Homo sapiens: one gene and its partners. The protein of the gene in region 4 interacts with the protein of the main gene of each other region in a biochemical or structural test. Each region holds a gene or a part of one and is shown on either strand. Other genes may lie near its edges.

Region 1 (5,312 bases), on a different chromosome or scaffold from region 4:
ACAGTGGCAGGTACTGATGGGAGAACATGCATCCCAGATGTGGTCTGTGCTTCTTTCCAAAGCTTGACAATGCTTGGCCAGTCTGTGCCAAAGATAAGGGGGTGAGTCTCTGCTTGGGCTTGGGTGGTGCTGGTGGCCACTGTCATTCCCAAGGTGAAAGGTTATAAGAGATACACAGCCAAGGATGAGGCTCAACTAAGTTGTAGTATCAGGGTGTTCAGAGCCTCCTAGCTGTCTGGCATCTCCTGAGATGGTTCCAGGAGATTCTCCTAAAATGAAGCATAATGTGCTGAGCTTTTCAAGGTGTCAGGGACATCAAACACCATGACGATTTCCACACTCTCCCACTCAGTTAAGCAGGACAGGGATTGGCAAACTACTGCCCATAGGCTGAATTTGGCCTATTCCTGTTTTTGTAATAAAGTTTTGTTGGAACACAGCCCTGCTCATTCATTTACAAATTACCTATGGCTGCTTTTGTGCTACAACAGCAGGGTTAACTAGTTGCAACAGACTGTATTGCCCACAAAGCCTAGAATAGTTATTCTCTGGCCCTTTTATAAAAAGACTCTGCCAATCCTTGAAGCAAAACCTCTGGCTAGGTGGCTGGGGTCTACAGATTTATAGCAGGGATATCCCCTGGAGACTGTAGCATCCCTGCCATGTCCACTGTGCGTGGGAGTCTTTGGATGGTGGCACTTATCTTTTTCAGTGGCTTCTTTGATCCATTGTGGCCAGAGTGAGCCCCAGAGGCTCAAGGTGAGGTAGGCAGGGCCACCAAGTGCTGTGACTGTAATCAGGAGTCAAAGGACAGCAGCAACATGTGGAGGCAACTGAGTCTGTATAATTAAATATGCTAGCCTTATCAAAAGTAACTTCCAAACCTTAGGTCTTCAGGTGGAAGGAGGAGAGACACTGGACCATGTGACCCTGAGCTTGTTATCAGTGTTGTGGGCAAAGCAGATTGGAGAGAGAGAAGTTAGAGGGGGAGAGAGAGAAGTTAGAGGGAGAAAGAGCACCATGGGGAAGCGTTCAATCGTTGAAAAAATATTTGTATACTTCCTTTGTTCAGGTGGGAGGAAGGAGCAAGTGGGAGGAATGTTTGAAAAGATGAAGCAGCCTGGGTGGGGAGCCACCCAGGTAGGTGGGAGTCTTGACATGCTCAGCAATGAGCCAGAGTCCTAAACCCCAGGATGGTGAGGTTGGCATGTTTTCATAAGCCTGGGCCTGTCCACATGTCATTTCCCCCAAGTTGTCACTGTGAGCTACATGTGCATTTGTTCATTTATTTAACATATATGTAGGTGGGAGTCTGACATGCTCAGCACTGAGCCAGAGTCCTAAACCCCAGGATGGTGAGGTTGGCATGTTTTCATAAGCCTGGGCCTGTCCACATGTCATTTCCCCCAAGTTGTTACTGTGAGCTACATGTGCATTTGTTCATTTATTTAACATGTAGGCCTACTATTTGCCTGGTACTGTGCTGCGTCCTGAGGATATGACAATGAGTGAGACACATTTACAGGTCTCCAGATACTCACAGCCAAGTAGGAGAAACAGGACAAAAATAAACATTTTAAACACAGCAGTAACAGCTGTCATCAGGGTTGGCACAGCGAGCTGTGGGTATATACAGCTGAACCCTCCCCTAGGAATGACCCCTGTCAGGGAACCCAGAGTAGGCTGTTCAGGCAAATGGACACTCACCTCCAGGGCGCCCTTCACCTGCAAGTGAGTTTTTGCAGGCCCCTTAGAATGGTTATTTGATTCAATAAAGATTTTTGTCCTCCCTTTCTTTCTCCTTTCTTCCCAGCCTCTTCTGGGAGTGGTAAAGAAGGGGGAGTCCTTGGGGTACTAGGAGGGAGGTGGTTTGGATGCGCACATGACCATGCTTGCAAAACAGTAGTGATGCTTCCCATCCTGGGACCATGAGTGGCAATCTGCCCAGCTAAAAGGCCACAGTAATCTCAGTCATTCTCTCCAATTTGGACATGGGCCCACGGCATGCCAGATCCTGGCCCAGGATGAGGCCAAGGAAATGACCAAGATGAGGCCTCTGCCCTGCTATTGATCAGCAGATAATCAGATACTAGACCAGAGGCCACAAAGGCATAACATGCAGGTGGCGGGGGATGGGGGGGTTGGTAATCAAAGTGGCTATTACATCCACCTGGATATAGACCCTGGGGAAACTGCCTAGCAGGTTAGTTTGCTTTTATGTGTCAGGTGAGATGTGTGGCAGGAGGGTCTGCCAGGGGCACAGTGGGATCTACAACCCTCCCATGTGACCGCCTTTACAGTGAATAGAAGATTCTGACAAATTTTGCAGAATTGCTTTTAAAAACGTAAACTTTTTTTAATATGCTAAAGGTAATACATGCTTATCATAGAACATTTGGAAAACTCAGAAAATTATAAGTTTAAACTATTAATAAGTCCACCATTTAGAAGACCACCATTAATTATATATTTCCTTATTTTTTATTCCTATATATAGTCATTCAGAAGTTGTACTTTTGTCTATTGTCCAATATTTTAAACTTTTCTGCTTCTTTTCAATGCTTTCATATTTAATACTTTTTTTTCCCCATTCACATTTCAATTAAACTTTTCACTTAGAATTTTCTCCAGGCTGGGTTCAGTGGCTCACACCTGTAATCCCAGCACTTTGGGAGCCCAAGGTGGGTGGGTCATTTGAGGTCATGAATTCAAGACCAGCCTGACCAACATGGCAAAACCCTGTCTCTACTAAAAGTACAAAAAAATTAGCTGGGTGTGGTGGTGCGCTGAAATCTCAGCTACTTGGGAGGCTGTGGCAGGAGAATTGCTTGAACCCAGGAGGTGGAGGTTACAGTGAGCTGAGATGGTACCACCACACTCCAGCCTGGGCCACAGAGCAAGATCCATCTCAAAAATAAATAAAAATTAAAAAGAATTTCCTCCAAATTTTTTTCTACTTTCACATTTTTAAATCAATTGTATTAGTTTTCTGCTACATAATAAATTACTATAAATTTGGTGGCTTCAAACAACACACGTTTATTTTCTCAGTGTCTATGGGTCGAGAATTCAGGTATGGCTTAGTTGGATCTTATGCAAGGCTACAACTGAGGTGTCAGCCAAGGCTGAGTTTTTATCTGGAGGCTGTACTGGGGAAAGGTCCACTTCCAAGTCACATGGTGCCACGATCCACTTCCTTGCAGTTGTAGGATTGTGGCCCTGGCTTCTTGCTGGCTGTCAGCTGGGGGCTGCCCTTGCCTTCTAGAGGCCGTCCTTAGCTCATTGCCATAGGGGCCTCCCAACACGGATGCTTAATTTCTCCAAAGCCACAAGGGAGAAAGTCTCTAGAGCCAGTCTGCTAGCAAGACCGTCTTCTTTTTATTTTTTAATTTTTATGGGTACATAGTAGGTGTATATATTTATGGGGTATGTGAGATATTTTGATACAGGCATATAATGCATAACAATCACATCAGGGAATGGGGTATCCATCCTCTCAAGCATTTATCTTTTGTGTTACAAACAATCAAATTACACTCTCTTAGTTATTTATAAATGTATAATAAATTATTGTTGACTGTAGTCACCCTGTTGTGCTGTCAAATACTAGATCTTACACATTCTATCTAACTATAATTTTGTACCCATTAACTATCCCCACTTCCCCCACCCACTACCCTTCTCAGCCTCTGGTAACCATTATTCTACTCTCCAACTCCATGAGCTCAATTCTTTTAATTTTTAGCCCTCACAAATAAGTGAGAACATGTGAAGTTTGTTTTTCTGTGCTTGGCTTATTTCACTTAAAATAATGACCTCTAGTTCTATCCATGTTGTTGCAAATGACAGGATCTCATTCTTTTTTATTCTTTTTTTATAGTACTGCATTGTGCATATGTACCGTATTTTCTTTATCTATTTGTCTGTTGATAGACACTTAAGTTGCTTTCAAATCTTGGCTATGGTGAACAGTGCTGCAATAAACGTAGGTGTGCAGATATAACTTCAATATGTTGATTTCCTTACTTTTGGGTATATACATAGCATTGGGATTGCTGGATCATATGGTAGCACTATTTTTAGTTTTTGTTTGTTTGTTTGAGATGGAGTCTTGCACTGTCACCCAGGCTGGAGTGCAATGGCATGATCTCAGCTCACTGCAACCTCCGCCTCCCAGGTTCAAACGATTCTCCTGCCTCAGCCTCCTGAGTAGCTGGGATTACAGGCGCCCGCCACCAAGTCTGGCTAATTTTCATATTTTTAGTAGAGATGGGGTTTCACCATGTTGGCCAGGCTGGTCTTGAACTCCTGGCCGCAAGTGATCTGCCCGACTCGGCCTCCCAAAGTGCTGGGATTACAGGCGTGAGCCACTGCACCTGGCCTATTTGTAGTGTTTTTTTTTGAGATGGTGTTTCACTCTTTTTTCCCAGGCTGGAGTGCAATGGCGTGATCTTGCCTCACTGCAACCTCTGCCTCCTGGGTGCAAGTGATTCTTCTTCTGCCTCAGCCTCCCAAGTAGCTGAGATTACAGGTGCCTGCCACCACGCCTAGCTAATTTTTTGTATTTTTAGTAGAGACAGGGTTTCACCATGTTGGCCAGGATGGTCTTGATCTCTTGACCTCGCGATCCACCCACCTCGGCCTCCCAAAGTGCTGGGATTACAGGTGTGAGCCACCGTGCCCGGCCTATGTTTAGTTTTTTAAGGAACCTCCAAACTGTTCTCCAGACATTTCCACTAACAGTGTACAAGGGTTGCCTTTTCTCCATGTTCTTGTCAGCATTTGTTATTGCCTATCTTTTGGATATAAGCCTACTTGGGGTGAGATGATATATCTTTTTTTGTTTTGTTTTGTTTTTTGAGACGGAGTCTTGCTCTGTCACCCAGGCTGGAGTGTGCAGTGGTGCGATCTTGGCTCACTGCAACCTCTGCCTCTGTGGTTCAAGTGATTCTCCTGCCTCAGCCTCCTGAGTAGCTGGGACTACAGGCGTGCGTCACCACGCCCCGTTAATTTCTGTACTTTTAGTAAAGATGGGGTTTCGCTGTGTTGGTCAGGCTGGTCTCAACTCCTGATCTCAGGTGATCCGCCTGCCTCAGCCTCCCAAAGTACTGGGATTACAGGCATGAGCCACCCGTGCCTGGCCTTTCATTGTAGTTTTGATTTGCATTTCTCTGATGCTCAATGATGTTGATCACCTTTTCATATACGTGTTTGCTATCTGTATGTCTTCTTTTGAGAAATGTCTATTCAGCTCTTTTGCCCATTTTTAAATTGGATTATTGAATTTTTTTTTCCTATTGAGTTATTTGATC
Region 2 (3,500 bases), on a different chromosome or scaffold from region 4:
GCCATAAGCTCAGCACTTAATTTGTGTTACTTTATATGACTTGATTGCATGCATGTAGGTGAATTGACCTCACTTCTGGCTTTCATTTTGGCTCTTACTGATGTTTTTCCTTTGCCCCAATTTCCTCAATTGTTTATTTTAACCTGTAGTACCTCAGAAGTACCTTTTGTAAAAGGTATTGCACAAAGAGATGCACAGGAAACTTCACAGGATATCAGAAGGAAATATTAAGATGTTTATTTATATTTGGATTTTTATCTCATTCTCTTACATTTTCTGTTTGTGAGTTTATTTTTATAATTCACACCAAATATATATTTTATAGAAATGTACTAATTTTTACATTTTAATTAATTAATTTAGTTGATTAAAGGTAAAGGATTTTAAAAGTTTGGAGACCACTCATATAAAAACCAGACAAATATATAGAAAAAGGAAGGAGGGGAAAAGTACATGTGTGATAGATAGGTCCCTTGACTTGGAGAGCATTCCACATTTAAAGCAAAAAACATATATACATATATTTTAATGGGTTCTTTCAAGCCACTATTAAATTTTATAATTACTTTAACCCAGTTTTACCATAACTAAATATAAACAATTAAAATGGCTTGACCACTTAATGAAACTTAGTAATAGGTTCAGTTTTTAAAAATTCAGATGGCTTATTATTTTTACCCTTCTGTATTGTTTGAATTTTTTGTCAAATGTATGTGCTGTGTGTATACATATTTTAAGCATAAGATTGTAAAGAGATAGCAAAAAAGAAGGGGGAGAATTTTAAAAGATTACATCATGCAATTAATTTCTATGGGATTTTTAAAAATCACATACAGTGTTTTATTCATTTAATTTTCGCTTTGCATTAAGCTAATTAGTCAAGTTAAGCACAACTACAACTGAATGGATTCTCTCTCTGCATTACAACATTCTGAACTCTTTGCTTTTTCAGCCACTTTGGAGAGAGACTAGTTGTGAACCAATGTTACATAATGTGATGGGATATGATATAATGATGTGATGATATGATGCTGATTCCATTGCAGGCATGATCACACGGCTCCGCCACCCTGTGTCAACAAAGGCCAACAAGGTCCCCGACTCTGTGTCCCTGGGAAATGGTATGGATACATACTTGGGTTCTTAAACTCCATTTTCCATCATTTTTTATTTAAATATATGGTTAATTTACTGGCAAAAAAAAAAAAAAAGGAGGAAAGACAGGAAGGAGGCCTCTGTTCAGATTGTATCAGGAAGGATTTTCTTTAAAAAAAAAAAAAATCTGTCCTCTCAACCTAAATCTGTAAGCTTCTAGAATCACCAAGAAGATCATCAATTTGTTTTCTTATCAGACCCCATTATTAGCCTCCAGCACACCATTGTCTGTCCTATCTTTTTCCTGGATTTTGTGCCCACTGAGCAGAGCCAGTATTCAACCTTGTGTGTTAGGACGATCACATCCACTGCGATCACAGTTTAATTTTTTTATTAAAAAAATCTGACAATGTTTTACCAATCTAAGGACATCGAGTACATTTTGATGCTAAGCCTCTCCAAGATGCCTCTGATTGGCAAATTGTTTTTACTCTGAGCCTTCTTGTTAAATAACTGTAGCTACTTCAAGAATAGTGTTACCCTGGTGCCATTATCACGTAGCCACAAGACCACATCACTAAGGGTTTTTTTTTTTAACTTATCAACTTAAAATAAAAAGTCTTGTTTATATTGTCACTGTGAAACTCCCATTGGAGAAGAAATCACTTGGGAAGCTGTTAGCCCCAAAGCTTTCTATGCTCGTCCTAAAGAATGTCCGTCTTGCCTTGTTAGGAATCTGGGAACTGAAAAGAGAAGAGATTACCTTGTTGAAGGAGCTGGGAAGTGGCCAGTTTGGAGTGGTCCAGCTGGGCAAGTGGAAGGGGCAGTATGATGTTGCTGTTAAGATGATCAAGGAGGGCTCCATGTCAGAAGATGAATTCTTTCAGGAGGCCCAGACTATGATGTAAGTTTTTCCCAAGGAATGGCTGTTTAGCCCTCATCATGGGAGGGCATTAGCACTAATAGGCCTGCTGTTAACTTTGCAAGGCCTAGAGCAAAAGTCCACATACTGTATCATAGACATAAATATTTAGAAGTTATAAATTGAACTAACAGACTATTAAATCAAATCAGTCTTATGCTCCTACTTTGACAAATATACCTTCATAACAACCTGAAAGGCCATATTCAAATTGAGAATTCCCAAGACTCTACAAAGAAACCAGCCTCTGGCCTGTGGTCTTCCAAACTCCACCCCTCCTGCTTCTCCCCTCATACCCAACTCCGTCCTGCACTATAAGGGGCCTCAGTAGTTATGTACAGACACAGCATTCAGTACACACAAGCTCCCTCTTTGTCTCCCGCAAACAATTATCTAGTGGCTAATGATCTTGGCTAGGGGTAGTGTGCTTTACCCTTAAGCGGACAGACTCCTTAAGGAAGAGTCAGCACAGGTCCTGAAAGAGGCCTCAGGACTATATGGTTGGGTGATTTCAGAGTCCTGGTGCTCTAAGGGTGGCAGAGAAAGGGACATATAGGGTCGGAGTAGGCATGTCTCCTTGGCCCTGTGGCCTCCTTGCCCTGTGGGGAGGTGCATGGTGGGATGAAGAACAGAGTGGGGCTACCACCCAGAACTAATGCAGTACTGAAAATTAATGCTCTACCAACAATATCCTTTTCCTTCTTGGTACCTTCAATACAGTCTAATACTCTTCCTAATGTGTCTCAGCTCCCAGCACAACAGCCTTCAATTATTGGCAATACATATGTGTTCTCTTTCCCTCTGTGTCTTCTCTCTCTCTCTCTCTTCCCCCTCTCTCTCTTTCTCTCTCCCTCTCTCTCCCTCTTCCTCTCTCTCCTTCTCTCTCTCTCTCCCTCTCTCTCCCTCTCTCAGTTGTATATAATTCTCCCTCTTCTTGTCAACATAGTAAATCAGACTTTGTAGAGTGACCACCATTCAGGTTTGCTGAGGTCTGGGAGGTTTTAGCACTGAAAGTCCTGTGTCCTAGGAAACCTCCCAGCCCCAGGCAAACCAGGACAGTTGGTCACTCTACTTTTAGAGAATCAATCAGTATGGTATGAAAAATGATGTTATAGTAGGTCTCTGGTCAAAAATAGTTGAAATAAAAAAATTCCTAGCCTGCTAGAGATTGAGAGCACTTTTTAAATTTTTACTTAAACAGTTATACTGTACAGTGTTTACAGGCATTTCTCTAAGCACTTTACAAATATTAACTCACTTAATCCCCATAAGAAACCTATGAGGGTTGTACCATCGTTATCTTAGATTTACAGGAAACCGAAGCACAGAAATGTTGAATAACTTGTCCAGAGTCGGCAAGCTAGTAAAAGTCGAAAAGCAGAGATACAAACCCAGGCAGACATTCTAGGGTCCATTTCTTTAGTTATTCTTTTATGAAGACCAAAGGAATTAGGAAAGTCAGAACAATCACTTTTACCATAAT
Region 3 (5,136 bases), about 64 Mb from region 4:
CTCTGGCCCAGAGGTTTCCCTAATTTTGGCATATCCTAACCAAACCAACATTTAACCTTCCCATAATTTGTTTCCCCAAAAACAACGAGAAAAGGAAAAGGGTGGGGTGGTGGTGAGGGGAGGGGGTACTGCTAGGCACTCTGTGTTACTGATATCGCTCCATAAAGACAGGGACGGCCGGGTGCGGTGGCTCACGCCTGTAATCCCAGCACTTTGGGAGGCTGAGGCAGGCGGATCACGAGGTCAGGAGATCCAGACCATCCTGGCTAACACGGTGAAACCCCGTCTCTACTAAAAATTAGCCAGGCGTGGTGGCGGGCGCCTGTAGTCCCAGCTACTCGGGAGGCTGAGGCAGGAGAATGGTGTGAACCCGGGAGGCACAGTTGCAGTGAGCCGAGATCGCGCACTGCACTCCAGCCTGGGCGACAGAGCGAGACTCCTTCTGGGAAAAAAAAAAAAAAAAAAAAAAAAAAAAGACAGGGACTTGGGAGCGCACAGTAAACACTTAATAAACACTGTCAAATGACTAAAGACCAGGGACCTCCTGAAATGCTCTACTCTGCATAACCTTTCTCTAGGACTTTTTCTTATCTCTGAGCTGATGGAAATCCCAATAATCAGATTAAATTTCCTGTTACCCTAACATGCTGGAGAGCTTAGAGACAGATTAATTTTATTTAGAAAAAAATAAAGTAACTTTTCTTATATCTTAGGGTTCTTGGAGTAAAATTCATACATGCTGCAAGTCTATGGAAGTATTTCAAAGAGAATATTTGAGGAAGGAGAACTAGAACTGTAAGGAAAACCTTAGTCTAACTGGAAAAGTAACCTCACTCACAGTTCATGGAAGACCAAATAAAATGTGGGCCAATTATAAGAAACTAGAATATGTGAGTGTTAGGACTTAAGAAAACATTAGTTTAACTTTGTTTTAGGATGAAACAGACAAGTAGAGTCCCAAGGGTTTTTGTATTCAAAATCAATTAGGTATTGGCTGAAATTATTTTTTACCATCTGGGCAAGAAGGAACAAGAGGCAAGGCTTAAAGCTATTTGTATAAAAAAGATTTTACATTTTCTCAATATACATTTTAGAAAGACTGTCGCCCCCCCACTCCAGATCTCATCTTGCGCAATATGCCTAAGATACACTGCTCTTGATTTGTGAAATAATTGAGTTTCCGAATAATTTACTGAGTTTCTGAATATTAAAAATATGAGTAAAAAATAAATCGACATTAACATCTGCTTAATAGTGATAAAATATACTTTTATTTACTTTGTTGAGTCAGAGGGTTGTAAAAAAAATTATTGCTAAAGTAGATATCAGGCAAACAGAAAGGTGCTTTAGAAGTCCAGTTACCTTGGAGTTTATTTAAACTAAGAGAAAAAAGTCATAATGTTTTCATGCAATACATACTTGGTTCTCCAAATAACAACTGTGTGACATATAGCAGAAGGAATTAAGGAATGCTGCACTTGTGATCCATACAAAACACCAACATTTTAGGTTGTACATAATTAGAGAAATATCTGAAACACTTTTTAAAACACTGTAGTAGCCAATACATAGAGGCATGCCGTAGGTGGGCACAGGAATGCAGTTTAGAAAAGAAAAAAAAAAATCACATAGGAACTACTCAATTTCTTTAAAATCACTGAGCAAGAACAGCAACATTGAACTTTCATACTGATTTTACACAACTTCTATACAGTACCTTGACTTAAATCCAAGAGCAAAAGTTAAGACTCTCCTCCTCTATTTTTGGTAAACAACTGCATGGTAAACTTAGATGACTCTTCCCCCTGGATTTTACCTGGGAGTGGCCTTTTTACATTTTTATTTAAAAGAGGGCAGGTTTGGCACTTTTATACTGATGTCACCAATGTTAATATTTCTTGGGATCTCAGGAAGATTCATATTCTTTACAGCTGATACAGCACGGGCTGGAGCTCCTGCTAAGCCAGCCTGTATACAGAAGCAAATAAAAGAAAAAGAAAATGTACAACTCAGGTGTAGCTCATCATAAAACACTTACAATGGAAGACAATGATAAAAGATTTTCATATAACAAGCTTAGGGACCAGATGGTAGTTTGAATTGGTATGGAATGGTTACTTTGAAATACTAATCTATAAAGAGAAAACAGTGACACATTAAAAAATACAGTGAACACATGCAATGATAACAATGTAAAGATTTAAATACAAATTAATGTGCACTACCACACAATATTCACATGATAAAACCTAAATCTTCACCTATATCTTGATTTAACTGACAGATAGCATGAAGCATGATTTACATTAGTTTCCTTATTAAATATCTCTTGCAACGATTGTGATAGATTTTCTTTTGCTTTTAAAATGGCATTTATTAGCAATATGTGCTGTGAAATAAAAATTGCAAGTAATAGATTGTGCTTGTTTAATTTCTTAGGGATAAACCCTTAAAACATTTTAAAACAATAAAATTAGTTTTTTAAATTGTGAGGGCTCTTTTAAACTTTTCTAATAAAGTTCTAGAACATTAAAAAAATAGGCTTTCAAGTAAAGCCTCAATCCAAAGAATATAGTTCTGCCTAAAGATGAAACTACACGAAGAGGATCATTCCAACCCTTTGATGCATTAGTAAAAATATAACGATTAAAAATGTTTTGTCATATAGCATAGATTCAGCAACATATATTCAGCTTACAGTTTACAAATTTAGAGAAAGAAAAGCATAAATGCAAGAGGTAGTAAATATAAATAAATGAATTCTAAAATTTCCAGTAAGTACCACTAGTGCATAATATTTGGCTTTCCTATTAGTAGGAACATTTGTAATTTGTGAAATAATTTTAAAAGAAAATATGCTTACAAATAAAAGAAAATGCATACATATCATTTTTCTCACCTACGTTAACAGCCTTCATATTTGAGGTTTAATTTATATACCAATTACATTTCATTACTTTTTATTCAGGCTATATAATAAAGCAAAGTCAACAAAGACATCTGAGTTCAGTGGCATCATTTTGTACAAAAATAGACAACAAAAACGAATCTTCCACTTTGATTAGATTATATATGGCAATGTCCATAAAATTAGAAACACTAGCTTTAAGGTCCCTTTTCATAATTTTAGTTTTCTTTTCTTATGTAATCCTACCTTTGTTAATTAAAATAAAAATAATAATAAAGCTGTTACCTGAGAAAAATCTTGACTGATACAAAATAGGCCAGTGTAAACTATTTGCTAAATAAAGGATACAAACATTGTTAAGCAATGAAATAAAAGCCATGGATTATCAATTCAGAATTGGAAATAATAGAAAAATTAGTAGAATAGTATTAATAATAAGTATATTCTACACAGGCAATGATAAGAGTGATACAAATGAATAACTCCATACCCAATTAAATAGTGAATAGGGCTGGAGAAGTTTTATAATTTAATGGATGTTAGTTATTTTTGATGTACAACTAAAAATGTGATTGACCTCTATACTTATACCTACCTGAAGCAATGAAGTTTTTGTTACCCCCCCTTCCTTCCTGCTCCCCCAAAGATGTTGGAGATACAACTAAATAATAATTAAGGCAGCATGTATAATATTTGAAAGGGTCTTTAATTTGATCGTTTCAAGTTAAAGGTCTAGCTACCAAAATTTAGAGTGGGTTGGGATCAAAGAAGAATCCAATTCAAAGAGGTTTACCATCTTTTGGCTTTCTTTTACCAGGAAGTATGTTGTCTACTAAGGAAGAAAAATTTACAAAATTGCAGACGTCCTGGAGGTAGTATCATTTTTTAGATAGGAGGATTTTGTAATTTTTCTAGTTAAAAGACCAATTTGCCACTATTTTTACTTAGGAATTTCCATAAAGAAGACAAATAATGAACTGACTATAGAAAAGTATTGACAAAATATTTGAGTATAAATATTTTAAAGGTGTGAATTATTAAGGGATTTTATTATTGTGAGAGAAATTGTGCGTGTGTGTGTGTGTGTTTATCTGTGTATTTTATTGGACACTATGGTTTACACTTATAAATAGTAAACATAATGTTTTCAGTATTAAATGTACATGAAGCTCTCTTTTCCATAATATCCTGTACCATGAAGAGCTAAACTAAAGCAAAAAATAAATTAAAAAAATTTAAAAATGCATCCTGTTAAATTTCATTAGATTGAGTTGTATCATTGTGACCAAAGATGGTGTCGACTGTTGGCTGCTAACAAGAATACATAAAGTCAATATAGCAATTGATTTAAATAGCATATTTGTGCTTAATATGTAAAACCAAAAGAAGTTTCTAAGTACAACAAACTACAATTCTTCTAAACATAAGCAGCAAGCCATAGACATGCAAAAGATAGGAACTATTCAGAACACGCAAATGAATTAGGAGGATCAAATTATTTCTCAAGCATGTTCAATACTTTTGTGTAGTATGCCATGAATTTAAATGGTAGGAAAATTTAAAGTTGTAATAGGTGCTTTAAGTTTTAATTAAACTAACGTTTTAAAAAGAAATCATATTATGCAAAATATAAAATGTTGAGAAAATATGATAAGGACAATTGATCAACAGATGTTTAAACCAGCTAGCAATGTTTATATATAAAAATTTAGGGCTAAAAAAAAAGACTTTATGTCACTCAGTCAACACCAGAATGGCTATAAAACAAATTTCATTTTCAGACATTCATGAAAGTGATGCCTGAAACATTTTTATTAAAACATAAAATGTAAAGTAACTTTCCATTAGGCAATCAGTTTGCTGACACAGAGGTATGAAGTAATTTTCATCTTGGTTAAGATTTTTTTTTTTTCCAGTAAGATACATTCAAAGCAACAAAATAACTTTTACTAACACTTAACTTTTCAACGCTAAAACTTACAGAAATTGTTTACCTGACTTGTTAGCAGTACAGTAGTCCCCCCTTACCCGCAATTTCACTTTCCATGGTTTCATTTACCCGTGGTTAACTGTGGTCTGAAAATAAGTGTGTGCAGTACAATATTGTGATAGAGAAAGGCCTCAATCACATAACTTTTTTTTTTTTTTTTTTTTTTAAGAGACAGGGTCTCACTCTGTCACCCACAGTGGAGTGAGTGATGCAATCATGGCTCACTGCAGCCTTGAAC
Region 4 (4,667 bases):
GCGGAAGAAGGGCCAAATCTGAGTGAGACTAAGACACTTGTTGACGCTGATCCTTGTGGAGAGACAGAAGGTGATGGACAGCGGGCACTGCGTCCCACAGGCCTGAGGAAGCCCTTCTCCATGCGGGCCAAAGCCCTGATTCTTGACCAGCCCTGGGGAGCACATGGACTCCATTCCACAGGGGAGGCGGCTGAGGCTTTGAAAGGTGGCCCCTCAGAGGGCTTTCTCAGGGCGAAGCAGCACCTGTGATTTATTTGGGCTTAGGGACTGGGGTGTTCCAGAGAAGTCAAAGGCATGAGGTACTTTTCTGGCCTGTTAACATCTGCTGGACAAGATTTTCTTGCTGACAAATAGATCCTCACAGACTGAGCTAGAGCCATATACCCTTGGGGCTGCCAGTGTGTGCCCAGGACATTCATCCTGACATCAAAGAGCTCTGGCGGCTCTAGAGTCCTGTTTTATGATTTCTATCCTCTGATGCTGTGAAACTGATATTACCTAGAAGTCCCGGCTGCTGTTAGTTGCTGCCCCTGACCTGGCACTTGGAAGTTAGATGCCCAGAGACATCAGGGTCCCTGCTCTGCACCACGTGGAACAGTGTGCAAAGGGACTGCTTTTGCATTGCTGCCACGGCACAGCTGAGGCCGAAGCGGGGTGCTCCTGCAGGCAAGGCTGTCTTGAAGGCCAGGCTGCCGTGCCCCCGAATGTCTGCCTCCTCTCCCACACTCTCCGCCCTGCAGCTCAGCCTGGCACCCGCACCCACACCGGGCCACCTGCAAACTCCTGCTTTTCGGTGGAATGTGTCATTCTGCCCTCCCCACCAGGGTGCGGAAACCTGGCCCAACTCAGGGCTTGGCTTGAGTGGTCCCTAGCAATGGCACAGGGCACTGCAGTGGGGCTGGCTGGCCTCTGGCCCCTCACTTCAACAGAAGGGCCTGTTTTCCACTGTTTAAAGATATCCGCGGGTCCCTCCTCTCCGCCACCTGCTTCCCCCTTAGGGAATGCCCATCAGGCCTATTTTGAAAGCACAGCTGATGGTGGAGGAACTGGAGTCGGAAGACCTAGGCTCAGCTTCGGCCACCTGTCAGCATCGCCCTCAGCCGAGGGACACGTTTCTGAGCAGCGTTTGGCTTCTCTGTCAATACGTCATCACCACTGCCTCAACCACACGCTCTCACCTGACTGTTGGGATACTTAAACGTACGAGCACACGGGCAGTCAGCACAAGCTGACAGCAAAGAAGTGGTTCTTAGCAAGGCAGTACCTTCAGTGCCTGGTTCACTTCTTTTATATCTTCCATCTTCAGCTTGGACCTAAGGAAAAAAAAAAGGCCATTTCATAGCAGTGAGAGAGAGTGAGGCTCTGAATCCCTAACACAGCTGGCTCTCAGGACTAGCTTTGTGAGGATACCGGACTTGTGAGGAGACCCAGAACGTGAGTTGTTAAAATGCCTTCCGCCTCTGTACAATCCCAGAGTTGCCTCATCACACTGGCTCCCGTCTGCTGAGGGCTGAGGCTGAGCCTGGGACTGCATCTGGCACGAGAACACACTGCTTAGCCTGCAGGGGCTCAAAAAGACTTTGAGGGAGGCTGAGGCGAGAGGATGGCCTGAGGCCAGAAGTCCAAGACCTGGCCCTGTTCTGCACTAGTCTCTACCGCTCTCCCCAGCAGGAACCTGAGTCTGCAGGCTTCTCCCCGGCCTCCATTCTGCTGCCTGCTGTCTGGAAGGGGGAAGGCTCAGATGGCATAGCCATTTGTTCTTGCTCCATTCTTGTTCAGTGTCAGAACAATTCCTTTGTTTACACAAGAGACAGGACTGAACATGGTCTAAATTGGCAGAACTAAACCAAATAAAATGAAGCAGTTTGTGCAATTGAGGGAAACAGTCTGATCCTTTTTTTTTTTTTTTTGAGACAGGATCTTGCTATATTGCCCAGGCTGGAATGCAGTGGTGCAATCATGGCTCACTGCAACCTTGACCTCCTGGGCTCAAGTGATCCTCTCACTTTAGTCTCCCAAGTAGCTGCGACTACAGGTGCATGCCATCACGCCTGGCTAATTTTTGTATTTTTTCTAGAGGTGGGGTTTTGCCATGTTGCCCAGGCTGGTCTTGAACTCCTGACCTCAATTGACCCACCTGCCTCAGCCTCCCAAAGTGCTAGGATTATAGGCCTGAGCCTTTTTCTTTTTTTCTTTTTTTTTTTTGAGATGGAGTCTTGCTGCATTGGCCAGGCTGGAGTGCGGTGGTGTGATCTCGGCTCACTGCAACCTCTGCTTCCTGGGCTCAAGCAATTCTCCTGCCTCAGCTTCCCAAGTAGCTGGGATGACAGGCGCCCGACACCACACCCAGCTTATTTTCTTGTACTTTTACTAGAGATGGGGTTTCACCATATTGGCCTGGCTGGTCTTGAACTCCTGACCTCAAGTGATCCACCTGCCTCGGCCTCCCAAAGTGCTGGGATTAGAGGCCTGAGCCCCCACGCCCAGCCTGGCCTGGGTCTTTCTTAAAAGCTGAGATCAGTCTGAACTATCATCAGATTAGACTCATCTCAGTGACAAAATGGCAGGTCTCTGGGAAACACAGGCTAGACTTCGAAGGGAGGGATTAGAAAACAGCATCAGGGCATTTAGAAAAATCCCTGTGGCTTTTACTAAAGATCGGGAGGCAGCTCCTTCCCTTCCTGGTCCGGCTGCAGAAACAGGAAATAGGCCAGCAGATTGACAGGATGAGAAGAGGCTGCGCAGATGGACAGACCTTGGGAAGCCAGGTCAACAAGGCAAACTGAACATACAAGAACTCTGGGAAACACAATTTAGGAAGAATCCAGATGTTCCCAAGCCAATGAAACTGGAAACTGTTCCTGTAGCTAATGTAGGGCCTGCGAAGAGGCTTTGCCATCTCTGTCATCCGGTATAGGCTTGCAAGAGGAAGAAGGGAAGAGGGGAGAGAGCACAAAAGCAACTCCTCAGGTAGTCCTGTCTGGGTTTGCAAACACCTGATGCTGTGACACCCACAGCACTCACTGGGAGGGAATGGTGGCCAGGCAGCTCACACTGGGATTTGGAAGCTAGGTTAGCCGGTAGTGCCAGGCGGCCACAAAGTGCAACAATACATTTGTTTGTTTGTTTTTGAGACAGAGTTTCACTCTTATTGCCCAGGCTGGAGTGCAATGGCGCGATCTCGGCTCACCGCAACCTCCGCCTCCCAGGTTCAAGCGATTCTCCTGCCTCAGCCTCCTGAGTAGCTGGGATTACAGGCGCGCTCCACCATGCCCGGCTAATTTTATATTTTTAGTAGAGATGGGGTTTCTCCACGTTGGTCAGGCTGGTCTTGAACTCCTGACCTCAGGTGATCCACCCACCTCAGCCTCCCAAAGGGCTGGGATTACAGGCATGAGCCACCACACCCGGCCACAATGATACATTTTAAAGATCAGAGACCAACCACAGTTTCGAGGTCTATGGTCCACTAGGAGGGGACCTGTGACACTGCCTTGCTGTCCATCCAATGTAAAGAGGAAAACACTGGCTGCAAACCCCAGAAGCCAGCTCCACGCCAGCTCTGTTCCACGTCTGCTTCTGGTGAGTGCTCTCGGGATGCCCTCACAGCTGGCCTATGCTCTGAGCATGGGGACAGACACTGGGCCTTGCGTCCCTCAAGGAGCTCCCTGGGGGTTGGGAAGGAACGGGCCAGAGCACGGCAAGTTGACAGGCCAGACGGGAGCAGCACAGGGCACTCAGCTGAGTGGGTGGCAGGCAGGGCGGAGGGTGGGAGGGGAGGAAGCAGCGGCCATGGGCTAGTCTAGAAAGGTAAGAGGCACAGGAGAGACGGCGAGTGGCCAGCACCTGCATCTGGGAGTGGGCAGACCGCATTCCCACCAGAGACATCAGATTCCCTGACCAGCTATTTGTTTTTTTTTTTTGAGATGGATTCTCACTTTTGTTGCCCAGGCTGGAGTGCAGTGGTGCAATCTCGGCTTACTGCAACCTCTGCCTCCCGGGTTCAAGCGATGCTGCTGTCTCAGCCTCCCGAGTAGCTGGGATTACAGGTGCCCACCATGCCTGGCTAATTTTTGTATTTTTAGTAGAGACGGGGCTTCACTATGTTGGCCAGGCTGGTCTCGAACTCCTGACCTCAGGTGATCTGCTCACCTCAGTCTCCCAAAGTGCTGAGATTACAGGCGTGAGCCACCGCACCCGGCCTATTTTCTTAATAGTACTAGACTCTACAAATTTCTGGTGCAGACCAGGCTGTGCTGAGGTCGTGAGCCCCATCTCCTTGGTCATGGTGCTTATGTCAGGCATGGGTACTCGGGAGCAGGGTCAATCTCGGGTGATCCTGGCAGCTATGCACAAAGAAGAGGGAGTTTGTTCCTCTGATAGATGGCCTTGCTGAGTGCTGTTTTGCCCCTGCAGGGTCCAGACCCACCTGTGAGGCAGACAGGATAGCAGAGGTAGGAGACAGAGACCGATTCCTGATGGCTTCTTTTGCTTAAGCCACTTTGAGTTGGATTTCTGTTACTTGCAACCATGCGCCCTGACTCGAGGAGAAAAGCTACCCACTATGTTGAAAATGCAGAATCATCACACAAATGGGCAAGTTCCACAGTCCGCAGTGTGATCCACCCCAAGGCCCAGGCGTCCACAGCAACCTATCTAGACTGGGA

Evidence for each region.
Region 1: the proteins of RUFY1 (region 4) and AP3B2 form a complex in vitro, tested with the Homo sapiens proteins (one study listed by BioGRID).
Region 2: of the proteins of RUFY1 (region 4) and BMX, one has a biochemical effect on the other in vitro, tested with the Homo sapiens proteins (one study listed by BioGRID).
Region 3: the proteins of RUFY1 (region 4) and AP3S1 form a complex in vitro, tested with the Homo sapiens proteins (one study listed by BioGRID).

Annotation. Positions count from the first base shown.
Region 1 is NC_000015.10:82,670,832-82,676,143, reverse strand, and holds part of AP3B2 (AP-3 complex subunit beta-2), read left to right. Parts: intron 1-5,312.
Region 2 is NC_000023.11:15,535,307-15,538,806, forward strand, and holds part of BMX (cytoplasmic tyrosine-protein kinase BMX), read left to right. Parts: intron 1-1,046; coding exon 1,047-1,121; intron 1,122-1,827; coding exon 1,828-1,999; intron 2,000-3,500. UniProt on the Homo sapiens protein: Non-receptor tyrosine kinase that plays central but diverse modulatory roles in various signaling processes involved in the regulation of actin reorganization, cell migration, cell proliferation and survival, cell adhesion, and apoptosis.
Region 3 is NC_000005.10:115,910,194-115,915,329, reverse strand, and holds the end of AP3S1 (AP-3 complex subunit sigma-1), read right to left. Parts: intron 3,242-5,136; coding exon of another isoform or gene 3,194-3,241; exon of another isoform or gene 1,975-3,193; intron 1,969-1,974; coding exon 1,840-1,968; 3' UTR 1,249-1,839; downstream 1-1,248. UniProt on the Homo sapiens protein: Part of the AP-3 complex, an adaptor-related complex which is not clathrin-associated. The complex is associated with the Golgi region as well as more peripheral structures.
Region 4 is NC_000005.10:179,602,522-179,607,188, reverse strand, and holds part of RUFY1 (RUN and FYVE domain-containing protein 1), read right to left. Parts: exon of another isoform or gene 4,417-4,667; intron 3,583-4,416; exon of another isoform or gene 3,448-3,582; intron 1,314-3,447; coding exon 1,265-1,313; intron 1-1,264. UniProt on the Homo sapiens protein: Activating adapter involved in cargo sorting from early/recycling endosomes. Regulates retrieval of proteins from endosomes to the trans-Golgi network through interaction with the dynein-dynactin complex.